Linked DNA regions of Homo sapiens. The protein of the gene in region 1 interacts with the protein of each later gene in a biochemical or structural test. Each region holds a gene or a part of one and is shown in the gene's direction. Other genes may lie near its edges.

What was found. Proteins that work in one complex are often made in the same cells at the same time.
Region 2: the proteins of NOTCH1 (region 1) and NFKB1 form a complex in vitro, tested with the Homo sapiens proteins (2 studies listed by BioGRID).
Region 3: the proteins of NOTCH1 (region 1) and MAML1 form a complex in vitro, tested with the Homo sapiens proteins (2 studies listed by BioGRID).

What each region holds. Positions count from the first base shown.
Region 1 is NC_000009.12:136,508,029-136,515,065, reverse strand, and holds part of NOTCH1 (neurogenic locus notch homolog protein 1 preproprotein), read left to right. Parts: intron 1-363; coding exon 364-556; intron 557-1,528; coding exon 1,529-1,674; intron 1,675-1,931; coding exon 1,932-2,045; intron 2,046-2,324; exon of another isoform or gene 2,325-3,794; coding exon 3,795-3,914; exon of another isoform or gene 3,915-4,036; intron 4,037-4,260; coding exon 4,261-4,413; intron 4,414-5,086; exon of another isoform or gene 5,087-5,104; coding exon 5,105-5,333; exon of another isoform or gene 5,334-5,593; intron 5,594-5,994; coding exon 5,995-6,196; intron 6,197-6,680; coding exon 6,681-6,834; intron 6,835-6,926; coding exon 6,927-7,037. UniProt on the Homo sapiens protein: Functions as a receptor for membrane-bound ligands Jagged-1 (JAG1), Jagged-2 (JAG2) and Delta-1 (DLL1) to regulate cell-fate determination.
Region 2 is NC_000004.12:102,602,322-102,609,358, forward strand, and holds part of NFKB1 (nuclear factor NF-kappa-B p105 subunit), read left to right. Parts: intron 1-193; exon of another isoform or gene 194-665; intron 666-4,174; coding exon 4,175-4,376; intron 4,377-4,828; coding exon 4,829-4,998; intron 4,999-5,327; coding exon 5,328-5,430; intron 5,431-7,037.
Region 3 is NC_000005.10:179,763,785-179,770,821, forward strand, and holds part of MAML1 (mastermind-like protein 1), read left to right. Parts: intron 1-1,541; coding exon 1,542-2,957; intron 2,958-5,065; coding exon 5,066-5,305; intron 5,306-7,037. UniProt on the Homo sapiens protein: Acts as a transcriptional coactivator for NOTCH proteins. Has been shown to amplify NOTCH-induced transcription of HES1. Enhances phosphorylation and proteolytic turnover of the NOTCH intracellular domain in the nucleus through interaction with CDK8.

The sequences.
Region 1 (7,037 bases):
GGCAGAGTGGCCCAGCAGGCCAAGAGGGAGCAGCCAGCCCTGAGGCCAGGCTTAAGTACCTTCTGCCTCTGTGGCTCACCAGCACCTTTGAGCAGGTCCCTCTGCCTCTCTGGGCCTCAGATTCTCATCAGTCAGGGCTGCAGTAGCCCCTGCCCCTGGGGCCCCTGGGAGGATGACTTGAGTGGGCACTGGTGCCCGGGGAGGCTGGCACATGGCACATTGTGATCCAAGATGGTTTCTGACACCTGGAAGGATGTGGCCAGAAGGGTGATCGCCCCGGCTCAACAGACAGGGAAATCGAGGTTGACGTGGGTGGGACCCCCTGGGCGCTGGGCCTCGGAGTCTGACCCGCCCTGCCCTTAGGGAGCATGTGTAACATCAACATCGATGAGTGTGCGGGCAACCCCTGCCACAACGGGGGCACCTGCGAGGACGGCATCAATGGCTTCACCTGCCGCTGCCCCGAGGGCTACCACGACCCCACCTGCCTGTCTGAGGTCAATGAGTGCAACAGCAACCCCTGCGTCCACGGGGCCTGCCGGGACAGCCTCAACGGGTATGCGGCGGGGCCGATCATGGGGACACATCAGTCCTAAACCCTGGGAGCTCTGCTGCCAGGAGGGTGGCACCTGCACAGAGCTTGAGATGGGCCAGAAACGGGCCTCGGACGGGGCTGGGTGGCAGGGAGCTCCCCTCGGGGACGCACATGCCTCTGGGTCCTCAGTCAGACTACAGTCCACACCCAGCAGCTGTGTGCTGCGTGTCCTTGTGGGCTGCATGGTGTGCTCAGGACACAGGCCCACAGTGACCCTGGAACACGTTTCCATGGTAACAGCCGCAAGTGTTTCTGATGCCCATGATGTGCCTGGCAGCACTCTGCCTGGATGGGACCATTTAAATCAGCAGGGACCCCATTGCCCTCATTTGGCGCAGAGAAGGCACGTGCTTTGTTCGGGGCCACACAGCGGGCAAGTGGTGGGGGGCTTTTCGCAGCACCCTACTGCCCTGCACTTGGCATGGTCCCCTCGCTAATGAACCAAACCCCTGCCGCAGTCTTGGGTATGGGAAGCGCTGCGGCCCCCACTTTTTTCTTTATTTTGAGACAGAGCCTTGCTCTGTTGTCCAGGCTGGAGTGCAATGGCATGATCTCAGCTCACTGCAACCTCCACCCCTCAGGTTCAAGTGATTCCCCTGCCTCAGCCTCCCGAGTAGCTGAGATTACAGGCATGTGCCACCACACCTGGCTAATTTTTGTATTTTTAGTATATATGGGGTGGGGGAGTTTCGCCATGTTGGCCAGGCTGATCTTGAACTCCTGGCCTCAAGTGACTCAGCCACCCCCGCCTCCCAAAGTGCTGGGATTACAGGTGTGAGCCACAGCGCCCAGCCTGCCCCCACTAAAGGACTCTGCGAGTCTGAGTGGATGGGCACCTCCGCCAGCCCATAGGGCATTGCAGACCCGGGAGTGCCCAGGCCCCGGCCGTGCTGCTCGGGCCTCCCTCGACCTGCAGTGTGGTCCCCCTTGCAGGTACAAGTGCGACTGTGACCCTGGGTGGAGTGGGACCAACTGTGACATCAACAACAATGAGTGTGAATCCAACCCTTGTGTCAACGGCGGCACCTGCAAAGACATGACCAGTGGCTACGTGTGCACCTGCCGGGAGGGCTTCAGCGGTGAGTGGGCTGCGCGTTTCTCAGTGCAGAGGGCCGCCCTCGAGTCTGGGGAGCTGGAGACACAGGATCGGGACCCAGGTCCAGCCAGCACCATGCATGGTGTCTCCCTCCCGTGGCAAAGCCTTAGCTCCAGGCCTCTGGCTCTTGGAGATGAGGAGGGGCCTGGGGTGGGGAGCAGGCCCAGGGCTGCTGTTGTGGGGCCCTGCCAAGGTGCCTGGGAGTGCTGGACATGCCGAGTGCTGTCCCCTTCCCTCCAGGTCCCAACTGCCAGACCAACATCAACGAGTGTGCGTCCAACCCATGTCTGAACCAGGGCACGTGTATTGACGACGTTGCCGGGTACAAGTGCAACTGCCTGCTGCCCTACACAGGTGAGGGGTGGGTGGGGCCTGTGCTGGAGGGGGCGGGGCCTATGTGGGAGGGGCGGGACCTGTGCTGGAGAGGGCGGAGCCTGTGCTGGAGAGGGTGGGGCCAGGGGTGGGGGCGGCCTGGGAAGCCGTGACTGGAGGGTAAAGTGGTGGCTTTCTTGGGGCGGGGCCTTCCAGAAGGTTCTGCGCCTCACTGAGTGCCTTAGGCCCCTGCAGTATGTGGGCCTTCTCCCGGGGGTGGGGTTGGCAGATTAGCAAAGATACAGGATGCCTGGGAGAAAATTTTCATGCAAGCATGTGTTTTACCTGGCAAGCCTGCCGCAAGACACAGGTAAGATGCAGGTGAATCCTTAGCAGGGCCGGGCCTGGGTCACTGGGCTCCGTGCTCCCGGCGCCCACCCTGCTGGGGTCTCTGGGGGCCGGGCTTCCCCACCCCCGCCAGCCGGACCTGAGGGATTCCTTTGATGGCGGGCTCTCTTTGTGTGAGCGGAACAAGGAGCCCTCTGTTTGGGCTGAGCGGGGAGGGGGATGTTCCCCCAACTGTCCAGCCCCTGCTATGAACCCAGCCAAGGGGATCACAGGAAATGATCTCCTCTAGAAAAGACAAAGAAGAGTCCACAAGCACCGGGGTCCTGGCGCTCCCCAGGAGCGGGCAGAGGGTGCTGCCACGGGGCCTGGTCAGGGAGGGCCTGCCTGGGCCAGGCAGCCGGGCTGGAGGTCCCACGCCTGCGGTTCCCATGACATCCAGCAGCCTGTGGCCAGAACGCTGTTTTCTTTGACCGAAGTTAAGGACCTGGGTTTTCTCTCCTGTGTCAGTCAGTGAGGACCCTCCCTCCACGGCTGGGCGCCCCTGTCCCTTTCAGACACGTCGATCGGGCCGGCAGGAGGAGCGGCGGTGCTGACCCGCTTCCTATCTGCCCGCTTCCTGCTTCCTTTCGCACAATTGTCGGAAACTCTGGCGCAGTTCCTGCCTGCCCGGGTCACCGTGGAAACCAATAGGAAGAGAGGCCCTGGAAAGTCGCCCCAGCAGGCCAGGGAGATAATGGGGGACAGGGAAGATAACGCAGTCCCCACGGCTATAAACAGGAAGCTCGGCCATGGGCTTGTGCAGAAAAAGGCCCTCGGCTGTGCACGTGGTTCCCACATAGCCTTTGCCAGACACCCTGCGTGGCCCTGGAGGTCTCCAGGCCGTGCCCCGTGCCCCGACACGCAGGATGTGCTGGGGGCCTGGGCCTGTCCCCTCCATCGCAGCCCTTGTTTGTTGGCCTCCCGTGATGGGCGTTTGCTGCCTGTGACACGGAGCCCCAGGATTAGTTTCAGGCCTCGGTCTCAGGCCAGGGCCTTTCCTCGTCACCCAGAGATGAGGGGGCTTGCGTCCGGGGTGGGCCCAGGTCCCTGCAGTGTCGTGGAGCCCACCCGACTGAGGCCGCCTCTCCTGGTGCAGTCCTTGTTCCTGGGCACGCCTGGTGGGGTGAGGCCTAGGCTGTGCCCCGCTGCCAACCGGGAATGAGGGGTGGCTTCTGAGCGTGACATTTGTGCAGCTTGTCTTCAGCGTCCCCCCATCTGTGCTCCACTCCTCCCTGGGTCAGGGTCCTGGCACAGCCGGGAGCGCTCAGGGGTCTCGGTGCACATTTGCCTCCCGGCGGGACCAGCAGACGGCACTCTGATGGCGGAAAGACCAGCAGGCGGTGGCCGATTTGGGAGATCCCTCTGGGTGAGGCTCCCGGGGTCACGTGTGTCTCCTTCCCGCAGGTGCCACGTGTGAGGTGGTGCTGGCCCCGTGTGCCCCCAGCCCCTGCAGAAACGGCGGGGAGTGCAGGCAATCCGAGGACTATGAGAGCTTCTCCTGTGTCTGCCCCACGGGCTGGCAAGGTGAGGCTGGCCAGGGCCCGGTGAGGGCTGGGATGGGAGGTCAGGATGTCTGCGGGACACAGGCAGCTCCCAGGCAGGCTAGATGAGTCTTTGAAGAGGAGCTGGTGGGTGCTGAGGAGGCCCTGGTCGGAGAAGTTCTGGAATCAGGAATTGACCTGGGAGCACCGTTCCCAACTCCAGTTCCTGTGACCTTCTTAGGCCAAAATTAGGGGAGAGGGGATGGTCCTGGGGTCACGGAAGCCTACTCCTGGGTCGGGAGAGGCACTGTAGGTGGGTGGGCCAGCCTGGGAAGGGCCTGGAGGGCCAGGGGCCGCTGGTGACCAACCGGCCTCCTCCTGCCCCGCAGGGCAGACCTGTGAGGTCGACATCAACGAGTGCGTTCTGAGCCCGTGCCGGCACGGCGCATCCTGCCAGAACACCCACGGCGGCTACCGCTGCCACTGCCAGGCCGGCTACAGTGGGCGCAACTGCGAGACCGACATCGACGACTGCCGGCCCAGTGAGTAGCCCCGCGGCTCTGGCCTCCTCCAGGAAGCTCTCAGGCCTCAGTTCCCCCGGGCAGGGTTGGTGCGCATGGTGCTGGCCATAAGCACCCAGGGAGGCCGGAGTGTGGCCGGGGAGGGTTGGGTCAGGTGTGGGGGATGTGCTGAGGGATGGCCAGGGTGGTTCAGGAGGGCCCCAGAGCCGGCTTGCTCCTCCCTGCACTTCGCGGAAGAGTCACGAGAGCCCCTCCCACGGCTCTTCACTGAGCCGAGGATGGCTCGGGCCCGGCCTGCACTCCCGCCTGGCTCATCGGGCCCCGCTGCAGGCCAGGGCTCTCAGGCCTCCCAGCCCTGCTTCACAGAGGTTGAGGTTGGCAGAAGCCGGGGGTCTTGCTGGCATCACCTGGCAGGCAGAGGCAAGAACTGTCTCTCCTCCCCTGCTCGGTCTGTGAAGCCTGCAAAGCTGCCCCCTGCCCTGGAGCTTGAGGACAGGAGCAGGTGGGGAGAGAGACCCCAAGCACAGGAGACGGGTGTGACGCAGCCTGTGGGTGCTGGGGCTCCCCACCAGACACCTTTGTCACAGGGCTGCTTGCCGCAGCCTCGGCAACGAAAGGCTGGGCTGTCCCCAGCCATGCAGCCTTCCCGGCCCCCTCCCGCAGGTGTGGGTTTGTGCCTGCCCCTCACACTCACCCTTCCGTCCTCTCCCAGACCCGTGTCACAACGGGGGCTCCTGCACAGACGGCATCAACACGGCCTTCTGCGACTGCCTGCCCGGCTTCCGGGGCACTTTCTGTGAGGAGGACATCAACGAGTGTGCCAGTGACCCCTGCCGCAACGGGGCCAACTGCACGGACTGCGTGGACAGCTACACGTGCACCTGCCCCGCAGGCTTCAGCGGGATCCACTGTGAGAACAACACGCCTGACTGCACAGAGAGGTGTGCGGGGCTCGAGTGAGGCCGTGGAAGGGAACGGGCGGTGCGGGCCACACGCAGTAGCTGGCAGCCTGGCACACCATGCAGGCGTCCGCCTAGGCCGGCTGGGCACTTAGCGCTGGCTGCATTGAGTCCAGACATTGTTCATTGTACCGACCTGTCCCTCCTGAGAGGGCCATTGTGACCTCCTCCTGTGTCCCGCACCAGGAGCGCCGGTAGTCTGTCCTGAAGAACTGGTGCGCTTCCTTCTATTAGACAACGAGAACTCTGTCCGTTCTTGTTTCCTTTTTGCCGTGTTTGCCAGGAAGCTCATTTGGTAAACGTCAGTCTCGTCCCTGGTTTCTGACGTAATTACCTCCCGTGTTACCAGGACGGTTTCTGGTTTCTCCCTCATTTACTTTAACCACCCTATGCCCACGCGTTTGGTAAAACCACTCTCGACCTGACTTATAAAGAAAGCAGGGGAGGGAGGTGTGACGTGGTGTGAGAGCCGGGCCCCGGGTTCCCACTGGCCTCCCTGGGTCAGCCAGGCTGCCCTGGGCCTGTCCTGGCCATCAGGCCCCTAGGGTTGAGCAGAAGGGGAGGTGCTGGCGAGGCAGAATCTGCTGGAGCGGGGACCCACCAATGCCCTCCACTCAGCCCCCGCCTGCCCACCCCCTTGCAGCTCCTGCTTCAACGGTGGCACCTGCGTGGACGGCATCAACTCGTTCACCTGCCTGTGTCCACCCGGCTTCACGGGCAGCTACTGCCAGCACGATGTCAATGAGTGCGACTCACAGCCCTGCCTGCATGGCGGCACCTGTCAGGACGGCTGCGGCTCCTACAGGTGCACCTGCCCCCAGGGCTACACTGGCCCCAACTGCCAGGTGAGTGCGCCGGCCACAGAGGTGCCCGAAGGAGGGGCCCTGGGTGGGTGCCTACCTGCGGGAGGTGGGAACGGTCACCCCAGGTCCCACTGTGTCGGCTCGGGGTCACCCCCACACCCCCGGGCAGAGGGTTTCTGGGGATCTGAGCAGCCGGTGAAGGAACCTGATGCGGAAGCAGCAGGCACCTTCGTTTCAATCCCAGGTTTCTGGAGCCGGGGCAGGAGCTCAGGAATTGGGGAATTGAGGAAAAGTGTTCCTTCTAGCAAAGGCCGAGGGTGGTCTGGACCTGCTGAGGGCCCTGAGGGAGACCCAGCCCAGGCTGTTCCTGGTGTGGGGGTGGTGGGGAGTCCAGGGGCGGCAGTTTCCACTTCTGTAGAATGGGTTGCAGCCTGGGTTGGAGTAGGCCCCTTGGCAGATGTGCGTTCTGAGCTACCGGGGAAATGGCCGGGGCGCGGGCACCCAGCTGACCCCAATCTGTCCCCAGAACCTTGTGCACTGGTGTGACTCCTCGCCCTGCAAGAACGGCGGCAAATGCTGGCAGACCCACACCCAGTACCGCTGCGAGTGCCCCAGCGGCTGGACCGGCCTTTACTGCGACGTGCCCAGCGTGTCCTGTGAGGTGGCTGCGCAGCGACAAGGTAACCTGCTGTGCCCACCCAGCTCGGGTCCCAGCCCATCAAGGTCCTCTGTGGGCCTGGGCCTCACCTGTCTACCACCCCATCCCCCGCAGGTGTTGACGTTGCCCGCCTGTGCCAGCATGGAGGGCTCTGTGTGGACGCGGGCAACACGCACCACTGCCGCTGCCAGGCGGGCTACACAGGCAGCTACTGTGAGGACCTGG
Region 2 (7,037 bases), on another chromosome or scaffold:
AGATCGAGATCATCCTGGCTAACATGGTGAAACCCCGTCTCTACTAGAAATACAAAAAAAAAAAAAAAATTAGCCAGGCATGGTGGCAGGCGCCTGTAGTCCCAGCTACTCGGGAGGCTGAGGCAGGAGAATGGTGTGAACCTGGAGGCTGAGCTTGCAATGAGGCGAGATCGCGCCACTGCACTCCAGCCTGGGTGACAGAGTGACGCTCTGTCTCAAAAAAAAAAAAAAAAGTGTGCTTTAAAGTGCATTTAAAGCAAAACTACTAAAACGTTTACATGTGGCTCTTAATAGTTTTTACCTGTGACTAGGTAAAAATTAATAGGTTTCCTGATAGGGGAAAATGACCATTTTTCATTCAATATAAGTCACCATTAGGCTTCTTCACTGGCTCTTGTGCTTCTTGTCAAAGGAAAAGTAAAGTTAGTGACTCTTCACTGCCTGTTAATATAAAATAACTAGTATGAAGTGTGATTGTAGATTTACATTTAAAGGATGTCTTCTTGAAACTTTCATACCGTTTTGGGGTCATTGGTATCCGTAAGGTCATTTTGCCTGTAAAGCTTGATTCTCGCAGACTTTTGGCTGATTGTTCCTTGTAGTCATCACAAATCTATGAATAAAACCAGGAATGGGACATTGTAGCTTGTCAGTCCTCTTTTCAAACCCTGCTTAACAGTCATATTCAAGGAATTACTTATTTTATGTTTATAAATAGGATCTGCAAAGGACACAGCACAACAGGATTAGTAGCTGTGATTTTTTTTTGGAGACAGAGTCTCACTCTGTCACCCAGACTGGAATGCAGTGGCGCGATCTCGGCTCACTGCAACCTCCACCTCCCAGGTTCAAGCGATTCTTCTGCCTCAGCCTCCTGAGTAGCTGGGATTACAGGCGTGCACCACCACACCCAGCTAATTTTTGTATTTTTAGTAGAGATGGGGTTTCACCATGTTGGTCTGGCTGGTCTTGAACTCCTGATCTCGTAATCTGCCAGCCTCGGCCTCCCAAAGTGCTGGGATTACAGGCATGAGCCACTGCGTCTGGCCAGTAGCTATGATTTTTTTTTTATATCCTAAACTCTTTACTGTATCATTTGGTTACATATGTTGAGACTCTCCAGTGTGTTAGAGACAAAAACCCTGAAACCGCCACCATTGATACTTCTATCCCTTCTGATTTGGGGACTCTCAGAAGACTATACGTCCATTTTTCCCCTACCTTACCACCAGTCTGATTAATGGGCAGTGATTCTGGCTTCCCTAGTATGCCTTCTAGGTGTCAAACACACACCCAATGGCAACTTTGATTTGAGAATTAGAAACTGCTAAGATTTGAACTCTTGATTATCTGTTGTAAAGGTTCTCTAGTAACTATTCTTAATGGAAAATGATACAGTTCTCTAAATAATTTGGATTATTTGACAGTTAAGCATTCTTCCCAAATACCTTTCACTAATCTAAGTACATTTCTGTGACCATCTGTCATGATCAAATTCCTCTCCCCACCCACCCTCTAGAAACACACTCAAAATAGTCCAAGTGCACCGAGTTAGGATTTTTTATGAAAATATTCTCTTTAAGCCTTTTTCTCCTTTCATTCTCCTTCCCCCAACATAGACAACCACTCTATCGTGTTTGGTATGGATTGTTTTATTTGTGTATGTTCCCATAAAACATTATTGGAGGGTTTTATGTATTTTTATGTTTTTAATTATTATACATATCATGTATATTCATAGTTTTAAAAATGGTACAGAAGAATCTACATTGGAAAGTCAAAGTTGCCCACCCTGACAATGCCCAGGTCTGCTAGCACAAATGTCACTATTGTGTTTATAGGTAGTTTTTCAAGTACTGGATACAAATGTACGTATACTTGAAATACATAGATATTTTCATATACTCTCACATACAATCCACATTATATTAAATGTACTTCTCTTGCCTTGCATTAACCTTTAAAATTTTTTTAATTTAATTTAATTATAGATTCAAAGGAGGTTACAAAAACGTACTAGGAAGTCCTAGTATTTACTGCAAGGAAACCAGAGGTCTCTTCACCCAGTTTCCCCCAATGGTAACATCCTGCATAACCTCAGAACAGTGTCAAAACCTGGAAATAGACGTTGATACAATCCACAGATCTTAATCAGATTTCACCAGTTTTACACACACTTGTGTGTATCTGTATAGTTCTTTGTGCATATATTTTTTAAATGCCTAAGTGGCATTGTGCTACATGTTACTGTATTTCTGCCTTCACTGCTTATCCACACAGTTCTACATATAGCTAGTTTGTTGTTTCAGCTCCTGAAGAGAATCTAGTATGGGTCTTTCACCTATAACATCCTTGTTTCCTAGTAGTAGACATTTAACCAACTTCTAACTTCCTACCTCAGTAGATAATACTGCAGTGACTGTCCTCACTTATGTCCTCTTGTGGATTTGTGTCAGAATTTCACCCAGATACATCTGCAAGAGTTGGGTTGCTGGGACATTTGTATATTTGGCTTTCCAGAATGTCTGTGTAAGTCCCCATGCCCACAGCCATAGCATGAAGGTATAATTGTTTAAGATATAATCCTTGGATTTAAGAACTAGAAGGTTTATATCATGGAAAACCATTGATTGGACTGTGGAAGAAAATATTAAAAAAAAAAAACCTCTCCGACTCATAAGATATTTTTTAATTAAATTCAAGCTACAGATAATTTATAATTCCTGAATGGTATACTATCTTATAATTTCAGATCCTTTTTTCACAATCTCATTCTCTTTCCTTTTCCCATCTCCCCAAGTAGCATTTCAGAAAACACAGATTAGTAAACACAGTTTCCATTGACTTATTTTTGAGAAGAAGGCTCTTGGCAACAATATCTAAAGTTTTGAGGACATCACTTCATTTCAGGCCAGGTTGATAGTCCTAGAAAATGAAAGAAATAAGGGCAAGTAATAATTTGGCAAAAAAAAAGGGTCTTGTATAGTAAATAATCACTGTAGTTGAGATTTAGACTACCCTCCCATCATTCATCCTGCCAGTTATCATGTGCTGTGGTCACCTACACAGCTAGGAGGTTGGTGGCTCACCTGCTGCTGTAGCCAGTAACTGCTCAATGAAAAGGGAATTTTAGGCAAATTGTCACAAGACTGGCTGGATGTCATAGTTAGGCTCCTGTGAAATAAACTGATTTGTATAAAGATACATTGCTGTTCTCTGTCAGTGAACTCAGTTATTTGAAAGATACGTTTGTGATTGTATTTGTCTTACTCATTTTTGAAAACACACAGTTTGCAAAACATCTTATTTGCATTCACCGAAGTAATACCTTGTGGGCAGGATAGTCAAATGGACTATTTAAGTACCTATTAGGTATCAGCAGCTCACCTTTTTTATTCAGCTGAGCCCCCTTGGTGAGATACTTGTATTATCCTGGTTATGTTATTTAGAATCTTATAATACCTTTTATGAAATGGGTGTAGGAAAGCTATATTGACTGGTCTCAGGAGCCAGTCCATGGGACAGTATTTTTTAATTTAGTAAATTTAGTTTCCATGTCAGCATAGAATCATGGCACTTTTGTTAATTGGTTTCTATTGAGTACTTTATTTAAATTTCTTCAGTGAAAACATAGCCTTAATTTGATTTGTTAATATAAAATTATCAGCTGGAGGTAACTCCTACCAGATATTTAAGAAAACTAAATTTACTACTAGGTGTGCTCAAAATCAACAATCAGTGGGTTGTAGTGAGAAACAAGAAGCTATTAAGACTTGTAAATATGAAAATAACCCACCACAGAAAAAATTGTAAGTATATGAAGTGATGGATTTGTAACTTAGCCTGATTTAATCATTTTATGTTGTAAACTTAGATTAAAACATCACATTGTACCTCATAAATATATACAATTACTATTTGTCAATTAAATTTAAGATAAATAAGAATTTTAAAACATGAATTATTGAATGGCTAAGTGTTAGTACAGTATATGTACTTCATTAGCATATAGTATGGAACAGGATAACTTGGGTGCCAAGGTCAGAAGTTAATCTGGGAATGAGAAATATTCCTGCAGTATGGCCCCACCTATTGCAGTAACAGCTACCAAGCTGTGAGTTGTAAGTAAGTATTCACTGCTGACCAGTGAATCTCCTGCCCTTTCACTTTCCAGACGCCCTTGCACTTGGCAGTGATCACTAAGCAGGAAGATGTGGTGGAGGATTTGCTGAGGGCTGGGGCCGACCTGAGCCTTCTGGACCGCTTGGGTAACTCTGTTTTGCACCTAGCTGCCAAAGAAGGACATGATAAAGTTCTCAGTATCTTACTCAAGCACAAAAAGGCAGCACTACTTCTTGACCACCCCAACGGGGACGGTAAGAGACAATCACACATCATTGGTGTAACTTTCTCCACCTTCTAAATATCTACTAGGTATTTGATAAACGTGTGTTATTTGATTTGCACCCAAAAGTGCTTTCCTTAGTCACCTGGAGTTCATCATCTCTTTTGGGCATTTCTGTTGCTCACCAAAGCTAATTTTTTTAAAGATGATTTGGAATAGTTAGTAGGAGGAGAAAGCAGAGGCCTGAGTAAAGATTCATCTTGAAGTACACAAAGCGTCGTTTATTCAGAGAATGTTTATTTATGTTCATGTCTCCTGAGAACATAATAGGAGACTGTGGGTCTTCAAAGCAGAACAATAGACTTATAGTATCTTTACTGTCCCTCCCCATGATTCAGTTTTTGCCATTTCCTTCAGCTTCACAAGGGCCATCTTGTGAGTTAGCCATCCCATCCTGTGACTGTCCCTTTGCTTGGACTCTAGGTCTGAATGCCATTCATCTAGCCATGATGAGCAATAGCCTGCCATGTTTGCTGCTGCTGGTGGCCGCTGGGGCTGACGTCAATGCTCAGGAGCAGAAGTCCGGGCGCACAGCACTGCACCTGGCTGTGGAGCACGACAACATCTCATTGGCAGGCTGCCTGCTCCTGGAGGTGAAGGGCACACTTATTTGCTTTTGCATTAAATTTCTGAGGGAGATTTAAGGAAATCTTTTCAAAGAAGGAAGTCAGTAGCTGCTGTTCTCCCTTACAATCAGCTCTATTTGTTTAACATTTATGGAGGGCTTCAGAGTACCACCTTTAGACATTCCCCCAACCCCCTTGCTTGGCATCTCTAACTGGGGATTTCTTCAATGACAGAGCCAGCCCAAAGTAGCAATTGGGCTAGTAATAGGACCCAAGGAGCCATGCACACTGGGAGGTGGGGACAAAAGGGCAAAAGAACCTTCCACTAACGCTTTCTTGTGTGGGCTGGATTGTAGGGTGATGCCCATGTGGACAGTACTACCTACGATGGAACCACACCCCTGCATATAGCAGCTGGGAGAGGGTCCACCAGGCTGGCAGCTCTTCTCAAAGCAGCAGGTAAGATGGTGATCTGGCGGTCATTAATGAAAAATGTTACCAGGAATGCAAACCCAACTTCAATAGAGCAGTCATGTTGCCTTCTTTAAGCCACAGACCTACTGCTGAAAAACAAGGGTAAATAAAAATTATATGGCAAATCACATTTTATCTGCCATAAGGCACTGTTTGGACTAGTAATCTTGGGCTTTACCCTGATAGTCATTTTAGTTTTTACTTTCTGATTCATCTGTTTGTTTGGGGTTTGATTGTTTAGATTGACTCCCATGACAAAGGGTCTTTTCAAAGTAGAGTTTGATTCCTTATAGAATTCTGAGTGGTATTAGTCTCAGATCATATCAGAAGGCCCCAGAAGAAAAAGATTATTGGTATAAGAAATCATTTAAAGACTTCATTTTGAAAGAAATATCTCTTAGAAATTGAAGTGTAGGAAAAAGAAAATGGGCCATGTATTAAGACCCATTATGTGGAAGGCACTAAAAATGGCTAGCACTTATTGACCTTTCTGTGTACCAGGCACTGTGATATGCACTTTATGTGCACAGTCTCATTTAATGCCCAATCACCCCTTGTGACAAATACCATTATTCCCCATCTTAGAGTCAAGGAAACAGACTAGAGAGACTACCAGATCCCACTTCAGGGTTCCAGTAAGTGACAGAGCTATGAATCACACTTCGGCAGTGTGAACTTCAAGACTTTATTCTCTGTACTATGTTTCTCTCTCCTATTTTGCTCATAGGTTTGCAGATGTTATTCCATTTAATTCTCTAGTCCTGTGAAGTATAGAAAATTATCCATGCTGATCTTTGAATCTCCAGTGCCTTGCATATTTAGAACCTCAAAATATGTGTAATGAAATTGGCATCTGAAGCCTGCCCTGACATATCTGATATACTTTAGAGGCTTTTTTTTTTTTTAACTTAAAAGGTAAATGCTTCATAAATTCAAGAAAACAAAGCAAAAGACATAGGAACTTTTTCTTTGGGACACCATATTTTTCTTTTCTCTTTTGTTAAATAGAACTTTTTCTTGAACAAGAAACTCTGATTGCAGTGGGTATTAATAGTTTTAGAAGACACTGATTAATTAAATGCCTTCCAACAAGAAGCTATAACCAGCCAGACGTGATGGCTCACACCTGTAAACTCAGCACTTTGAGAGGCTGAGGTGGGAGGGTCACTTGCACTAGGAGTGTGAGACCAACCAGGTTAACATTGTAAGACCTCATCTCCATTAAAAAATTTAAAAAGTAGCCAGGCATGGTGGCATGCGCCTATAGTCGCAGCTAGTTTGGAGGCCGAGGTAGAAGTATCACTTGAGCCTGTGAGTTCAAGGGTGCAGTGAGCTACAGTTTCACCACTGCACTCCAGCCTGAGCTATAGAATAAGAATAAGACCCTGTCTCAAAAAAAAAAAAGAAAAAGAAAGAAACTATAACCCTTTTAAAAATGCTTTATATTGAATTCTCAGAATCCCATGAAAGGAAAAGCAAGTAACAGTTTCTCTGATATATAAATGAAGAAACTCAGATGAAAAACCAAGTCCTAATCTTAATGTCGTGGAAAAGGTCAGTTAAGTCCGAGTGTGGTGGCTCACACCTGTAAT
Region 3 (7,037 bases), on another chromosome or scaffold:
AGCACAGGGGGCTCCCCGTCTCCTCTGAATCCTGTCTAAAGATAATAATGAGGGCTGTTACTTGGAACATTTTCTAATAACATGCTATAGATGCTTAGGGTTTATGGGAAGGGGGGATGGTACTGGGGGTGGGGGATAAAGGACAAAAACGTAATAAAGTAAACACAGGAAAGGAGCAGCATGTGTTTGGAAGCTGAGCATAGGCACTCCCTCTGAGCAGTGGAGTTGAGTCCTGACTGCAGCACATGCAGGTGAGGAAGCAGTAGAAGGAGTCCGTCTTCTGTCCCCTTCCCATCCCTTCTGACATGTTCTTATCTTGAAATCGCCGCCCCTGAACTCCCAGGGTACTTACTGTGTGCTGCTCTCACTCTGTAGCCCTGTCTGTGTATGTCCCATGTCCTGAAAGCCCACCCGAGGAGGAGCTGTCTTCTTTGTCTTTATGTTCCCCACAGCACTTGTCTCTGGCACAAGGCAGAATCTTAATAACTTCAGTGGCATGAATCCATCGAGGAGCAGATGGGAAGCAGAGTCACAGTGTCACACCAGACAGATTATGTTCAAGCAAATAGTCCCAATAAGAAGTAGTGAGGGGCCGGCCGGGCGCAGTGGCTCACACCTGTAATCCCAGCCCTTTGGGAGACTGAGGTGGGCAAATCACCTGAGGTCTGGAGTTCAAGACCAGTCTGACCAACATGGAGAAACCCCGTCTCTACTAAAAATACAAAATTAGCTGGGCATGGTGGCACATGCCTGTAATCCCAGCTACTCTGGAGGCTGAGGCAGGAGAATGGCTTGAACCCTGGAGGCGGAGGTTGCTGTGAGCCAAGATCACGCCATTGCACTCCAGCCTGGGCAACAAGAGCGAAACTCTGTCTCAAAAAAAAAAAAAGTGAGGGGCTGGGCACAGTGGCTCATGCCTGTAATCCCAGCACTTTGGGAGGCTGAGACGGGTGAATCACTTGAGGCCAGGAGTTTGTGACCAGCCTGGCCAACATGGTGAAACCCCGTCCCTACCAAAAAATACCGGAAGTTAGCCAGGCACAGTGGTGCACATCTGTAATCCCAGCTACTTGGGAGGTTGAGGCATGAGAATTGATTGAACTCAGGAGACGGAGGTTGCAGTTAGCTGAGATTGTGCCACCGCACTCCACCCAGCCTGGCGGCAGAGCAAGGCTCCATCTCAAAACATATATATATATATAATATATATATGTGTGTGTGTGTGTGTGTGTGTGTACTCTCTGGCATTTTTTTGTTGGCTCCATTCTTGGGCATACCGCCAGACGAGATGGCTGTGGGCAGCCTCATGCCTGTCTCCTGCAGAAAGAGGACTGCAGAAGCACTTTAGCTAGACATCAGTTCTGACTGGCCAGGTATAGGACCGTCAGGGAAAATGGAGGTGTGTCCCCAGAAATGGGAGTGTACACTATGCAAGCAGAACCCACTGGCGAGCATTGCAGGGACATCAGCCCTTGGCTTGTTACTGTCATAGCAGAGCAAATTCATATGTATCTTAAGTCATTCTTTTCAATGTTTTTCAGCATCTTCATGATACAGTTAAGAGGAATCTTGACAGCGCCACTTCCCCTCAGAATGGCGATCAACAGAATGGCTACGGGGACCTCTTTCCTGGGCATAAGAAGACTCGCCGGGAGGCCCCTCTGGGAGTTGCCATCTCTTCCAATGGACTGCCTCCAGCCTCCCCCCTCGGTCAGTCTGACAAGCCTTCTGGAGCCGACGCCCTGCAGTCCAGTGGGAAGCACTCTCTGGGGCTAGACTCTCTCAACAAAAAGCGTCTGGCTGACTCCAGCCTTCACTTGAATGGAGGCAGTAACCCCAGTGAGTCATTTCCTCTGAGCCTGAATAAAGAACTGAAGCAGGAGCCTGTCGAAGACCTGCCTTGCATGATCACTGGGACTGTCGGCTCCATATCGCAAAGCAACCTCATGCCAGACCTCAACCTTAACGAGCAGGAGTGGAAGGAGCTCATCGAGGAGCTGAACAGGTCGGTGCCCGATGAAGACATGAAGGACCTGTTTAATGAGGACTTCGAGGAGAAGAAGGACCCAGAGTCTTCTGGCTCTGCCACACAAACCCCCTTGGCACAGGACATTAATATTAAGACGGAATTCTCTCCAGCAGCCTTTGAGCAAGAACAGTTAGGCTCTCCACAAGTGAGGGCCGGGTCTGCAGGGCAGACCTTTCTGGGGCCTTCCTCTGCCCCTGTGAGTACAGATTCCCCCAGCCTAGGGGGCTCCCAAACCTTATTCCACACCTCTGGTCAGCCCCGGGCGGACAATCCCAGTCCAAACCTGATGCCGGCATCAGCCCAGGCCCAGAACGCACAAAGAGCCCTTGCAGGTGTGGTATTGCCCAGTCAGGGCCCAGGAGGGGCCTCAGAGCTGTCCTCTGCCCACCAGCTCCAGCAGATCGCTGCCAAGCAGAAGCGCGAGCAGATGCTCCAGAACCCACAGCAGGCCACCCCGGCACCAGCCCCGGGCCAGATGTCCACATGGCAGCAGACGGGGCCCTCCCACAGTTCCTTAGATGTCCCTTACCCCATGGAGAAGCCTGCCAGCCCTTCCAGCTACAAGCAAGACTTCACTAACTCCAAACTGCTCATGATGCCTAGTGTGAATAAGAGTTCCCCTCGGCCCGGAGGCCCCTACCTCCAGCCCAGCCATGTGAACCTGCTGAGTCACCAGCCACCGAGTAACTTGAATCAGAACTCCGCGAATAACCAGGGGTCTGTGCTGGACTACGGCAATACAAAACCCCTTTCTCATTACAAAGCGGACTGTGGGCAAGGCAGCCCGGGGTCTGGCCAGAGCAAGCCAGCCCTGATGGCTTATCTTCCCCAGCAGCTGTCCCATATAAGTCACGAGCAGAACTCCCTGTTTCTGATGAAGCCAAAGCCAGGAAATATGCCTTTCCGATCACTGGTTCCACCTGGCCAGGTAAGTATGAGCCTTTGCTTTCTGTTCCTCTGCTGCAGACACTTCAGTGAGGTTACTCACTACTTTGGATGTTAATTGGATCCGAGGTAGTTGTGGGAAGAGGGAGGAGGGAATAGCTGCTGTCATCCTTGCTCCTCTTGGGAGTGGAAATTTATAAAATAAACCAGGGTTGATTGTTAATAAAAAATAGGGTAAAGTTCCCTGGCATAGCTTGATTATTAACTGCACGAAGGTTTCAGGAATCACCTGCATTTAGTCCACTGTCTCTTTCGTGCCGTAGGATTTAAATTAAGTAATTTGCGACTGTGTTTTGCAGATAAACATTACGTTTCACGTGCTTCTTAGAGGCTTGGCTTTTTTTTTTTTTTTTTTTTTTTACTACCTTTCAGATCTCCATGTACAAAATTCCCTAATTTTTGGTAAGCTTATAACATTGTAGGCATGTGCTGCTTCCCAGCACAGCTCAGCTCTGTGCTTACTTCATCATGGTTCTAAAGCCCGGTAGCATCAAATGGAAAATGGCCCTTCGGGTTGTTTCCTGTTTTCCGCTAGTGCAGATAAGCCTGCAGTGAACGTGAATTTGTAATACATGCTAAAATTTTGCAAATTAAAAAGCCCAGTGCCGGTAATATCATGAGGAAATAGACACACTCCTGTATTGATGAGAGTGTGTAAATGAGCTCACTGCTTTTGGGAAGTCATTTGACATTATGTATTTTTCACATGCTGTAAAATGTTCATATGCATTGACACACTATATACCCGACAAGTTGATCTAAAGAAATAATCCAAAATAAAAGAAAAAGTTATATCCAAGATATTCATTGTGTGGTTATTTCTAATAGCCAAAAACTGTAAGCCATTTAAGCATCTCCCAGTGCTGATAATTCCACTTACTTCAGCCAGTAAGATGTCTCACGCCGTTCAGCACCCCCTGAAGAGAGGCTCAGCTGCACACAGTGAGGGTGCTTGCCATCTGGGTAGCACTTTGCAACTTACGAAGCACTCTCAGTAGTTCTTAAGCTTCTGGTGATTAGAGTGAAGAAATTATACCAGAATCTTAGAATGAATAACTAGAAAGGAGCTCAACAATTTGAACTGGTTTAAATAATGATTGCTTTTTGCCTATCTTCTGCTAAGTTCCCCTTTTCTTCTAAGTGTCAGTAATGACGGGATAATATTGTGGTGGCCTTTGACATGACTCTCACTTGTGGTCTATATATTGACAGAGAATATCTGTTAAAGTTCTCATTGATTCTCAGTATTTTTTGAGGATGGGTATTTGACAAAAGCTAAGCAGTCTCTTCCAGTAAAATGCTTGCGCAGATGTACAGTTTCGGGTCGTTCAGGGATAGCCCGAAATCCAAGGTTTATGCACATGGGACAGAGTGGTCTCCATTGACCAAAGCCCCCTTCAAAGTGTTCTTCCCCTAGGCCGGGTGCAGTGGCTCATGCCTGTAATCCCAGCACTTTGAGAGGCCGAGGTGGGTGGAGCACCTGAGGTCGGGAGTTCGAGACCAGCGTGACCAACATGGAGAAACCCCCATCTCTACTAAAAATACAAAATTAGCCAGGTGTGGTGGCACATGCCTCTAATCCCAGCTACTCAGGAGGCTGAGGCAGGGGAATCGCTTGAATTCGGGAGGCAGAGGTTGCGGTGAGCCAAGATCGTGCCATTGCACTCCAGCCTGGGCAACAAGAGCGAAACTCCGTCTGAAAAAAAACAAAAAGTATTCTTCCCCTATTGGCCCGCTCTGCACTCAGATGTCCTGATAAGTGAGCATTTCTAAGCCTCGATTGCTTACTGGAACTATTGTGTGCAAATATGAAAGCTTACATATGCTTAACGTAAAACCATACCTTTGTCACTGGTGAATCACTGGGAGTAAAACTAACACCTATGGAGTAATTGTTCGTTGCTAGGCGCCTGTATGCTCAGATGTCATCACTTTTGGTCTGTGCTCCAGCCCTGTGGGATGGTTGTTATTCGAGGTCAGAAGGGAAGCAGAGACTTGGCTTCAAGAGAGTGAACCTTGAATTCACTGGATGGAGCTTATTTGGTCTGATCAGAGCTTAGAGACTTCACAGTCCCCTATCTGTGTTGACAGGAGCAGAACCCTTCCAGTGTCCCTGTGCAAGCCCAGGCTACCAGTGTTGGGACCCAGCCGCCTGCCGTGTCCGTGGCCAGCTCCCACAACAGCTCCCCCTATCTCAGCAGCCAGCAACAGGCCGCTGTAATGAAGCAGCATCAGTTGCTTTTGGACCAACAGAAACAAAGGGAGCAGCAGCAAAAGCATTTACAGCAACAGCAGTTCCTTCAGAGGCAACAGCACCTTCTCGCGGAACAGGTAAAAAGAAAAGTGGAAGGAAACCACCGCTTCCCACCTTTGCCTGCACCCTGCGTCACTGCTACAGTCACACCTTCTGCTTGTGCGTGTGGATTTGCGCAGACTTGCGTGCCTGTTGTTAGAGTGCTTTGCCTTTTAAAAACATCTTTCCAGGAATGTGGCATTTCTCAGACAGGGGTAGTCTTGTCAGAAGCTGCTTCGTGTCACTTAGTGGAGAGTACTCAAGGCAGACTCGGGGGCTAAAACTGTTTGTGGAAGGGACATTTTCCTATGTTTCAGGTCAGCAGCTTCCAAGCCACTGAGCTCACGTGTCTGTCATTCCACTATGGAGTCAGCTTTGCTGCCACTACAGAGCCTGTTATAAGCCAGAACGTGAAGAGGGAAGTGAAGTCATCCCTGAGGGAAACACAGTTCACTCGCTTGGTTAGCAAGTGTAGTGTGCAGGCACTAAGGGTTACAAGTGAGAGTTCTTTTTTTTTTTTGGAGACAGAGTCTTGCTGTCACCCAGGCTGGACTGCAGTGGTGCGATCTTGGCTCACTGCAGCCTCCACCTCATGGGTTCATGCAATTCTCCTGCCTCAGCCTCCCGAGTAGCTGGGACTACAGGCAAGAACCACCATGCCTGGCTAATTTTTGTGTTTTTAGTAGAGATGGGGTTTCACCACGTTGGCCAGGCTGGTCTTGAGCTCCTGACCTCAAGTGATCCACTCATCTCGGCCTCCCAAAGTGCTGAGATTACAGGCGTGAGCCACCACGCCTGGCCTTAAATTACATCTTTAAGACATAAGAACTGGCTCCAGACAGTGAGGTTCATTGAGGACAATCCCTGCCTCAGTTCTGCCTTTAAGAAAAGCAGCTTTATTGTGATGTAACTCACACAGCATACACTTCACCCACGTAAGTGAACAATTTAGTCATTTTTAGTATATCACAGAGTTGTGCAACCATTACCACAATCCATTTTAGAACATTTTCATTACCCTAAAACAAATCCCATACCCATGAGCAGCCATTCTCCCATCCACCCTGCCTCTCCAGCTCCTGATCTACTTTCTGTCTCTATAATTGTCTGCTCTGGGCTGGGCGCAGTGGCTCACTCCTATAATCCCAGCACTTTGGGAGGCCGAGGTGGGCGGATCACGAGGTCAGGAGATCAAGACCATCCTGGCTAACACAGTGAAACCCCGTCTCTACTAAAAATACAAAAAATTAGCCAAGTGTGGTGACGGGCGCCTGTAGTCCCAGCTACTCGGGAGGCCGAGGCAGGAGAATGGCGTGAACCTGGGAGGGGAGCTTGCAGTGAGCAGAGATCGCGCCACTGCACTCCAGCCTGGGCGACAGAGCAAGACTCCATCTCAAAAAAAAAAAATTGTCTGTTCTGGACATTTTATATTTATGTTATGTCATTTTCAATCATGTGCTAGGTAACAGCAATTGATTCCTCTTGATAATAATATTCCATTGTATGGACATGTTACATTTTATTCATTCGTCTGTTCATGAACATTTGGGTTTCTTGTTTGGGCTGTTAATGAGTATTGCTGCTATGAACATTCATGTACAAGTTTTCATATAGACATCTGTTTTCATTTTTCTTGGGTAGATACCTGGGAGTGGAATTGCTGGATCACATGGTAATTTTTATGTTTAACCTTTGGAGGAACTGTCAGACTGTTTCCCACAGGCTGTCTCATTTTACATTCCCACCAGCGGTGTATGAGGGTGCTGATTT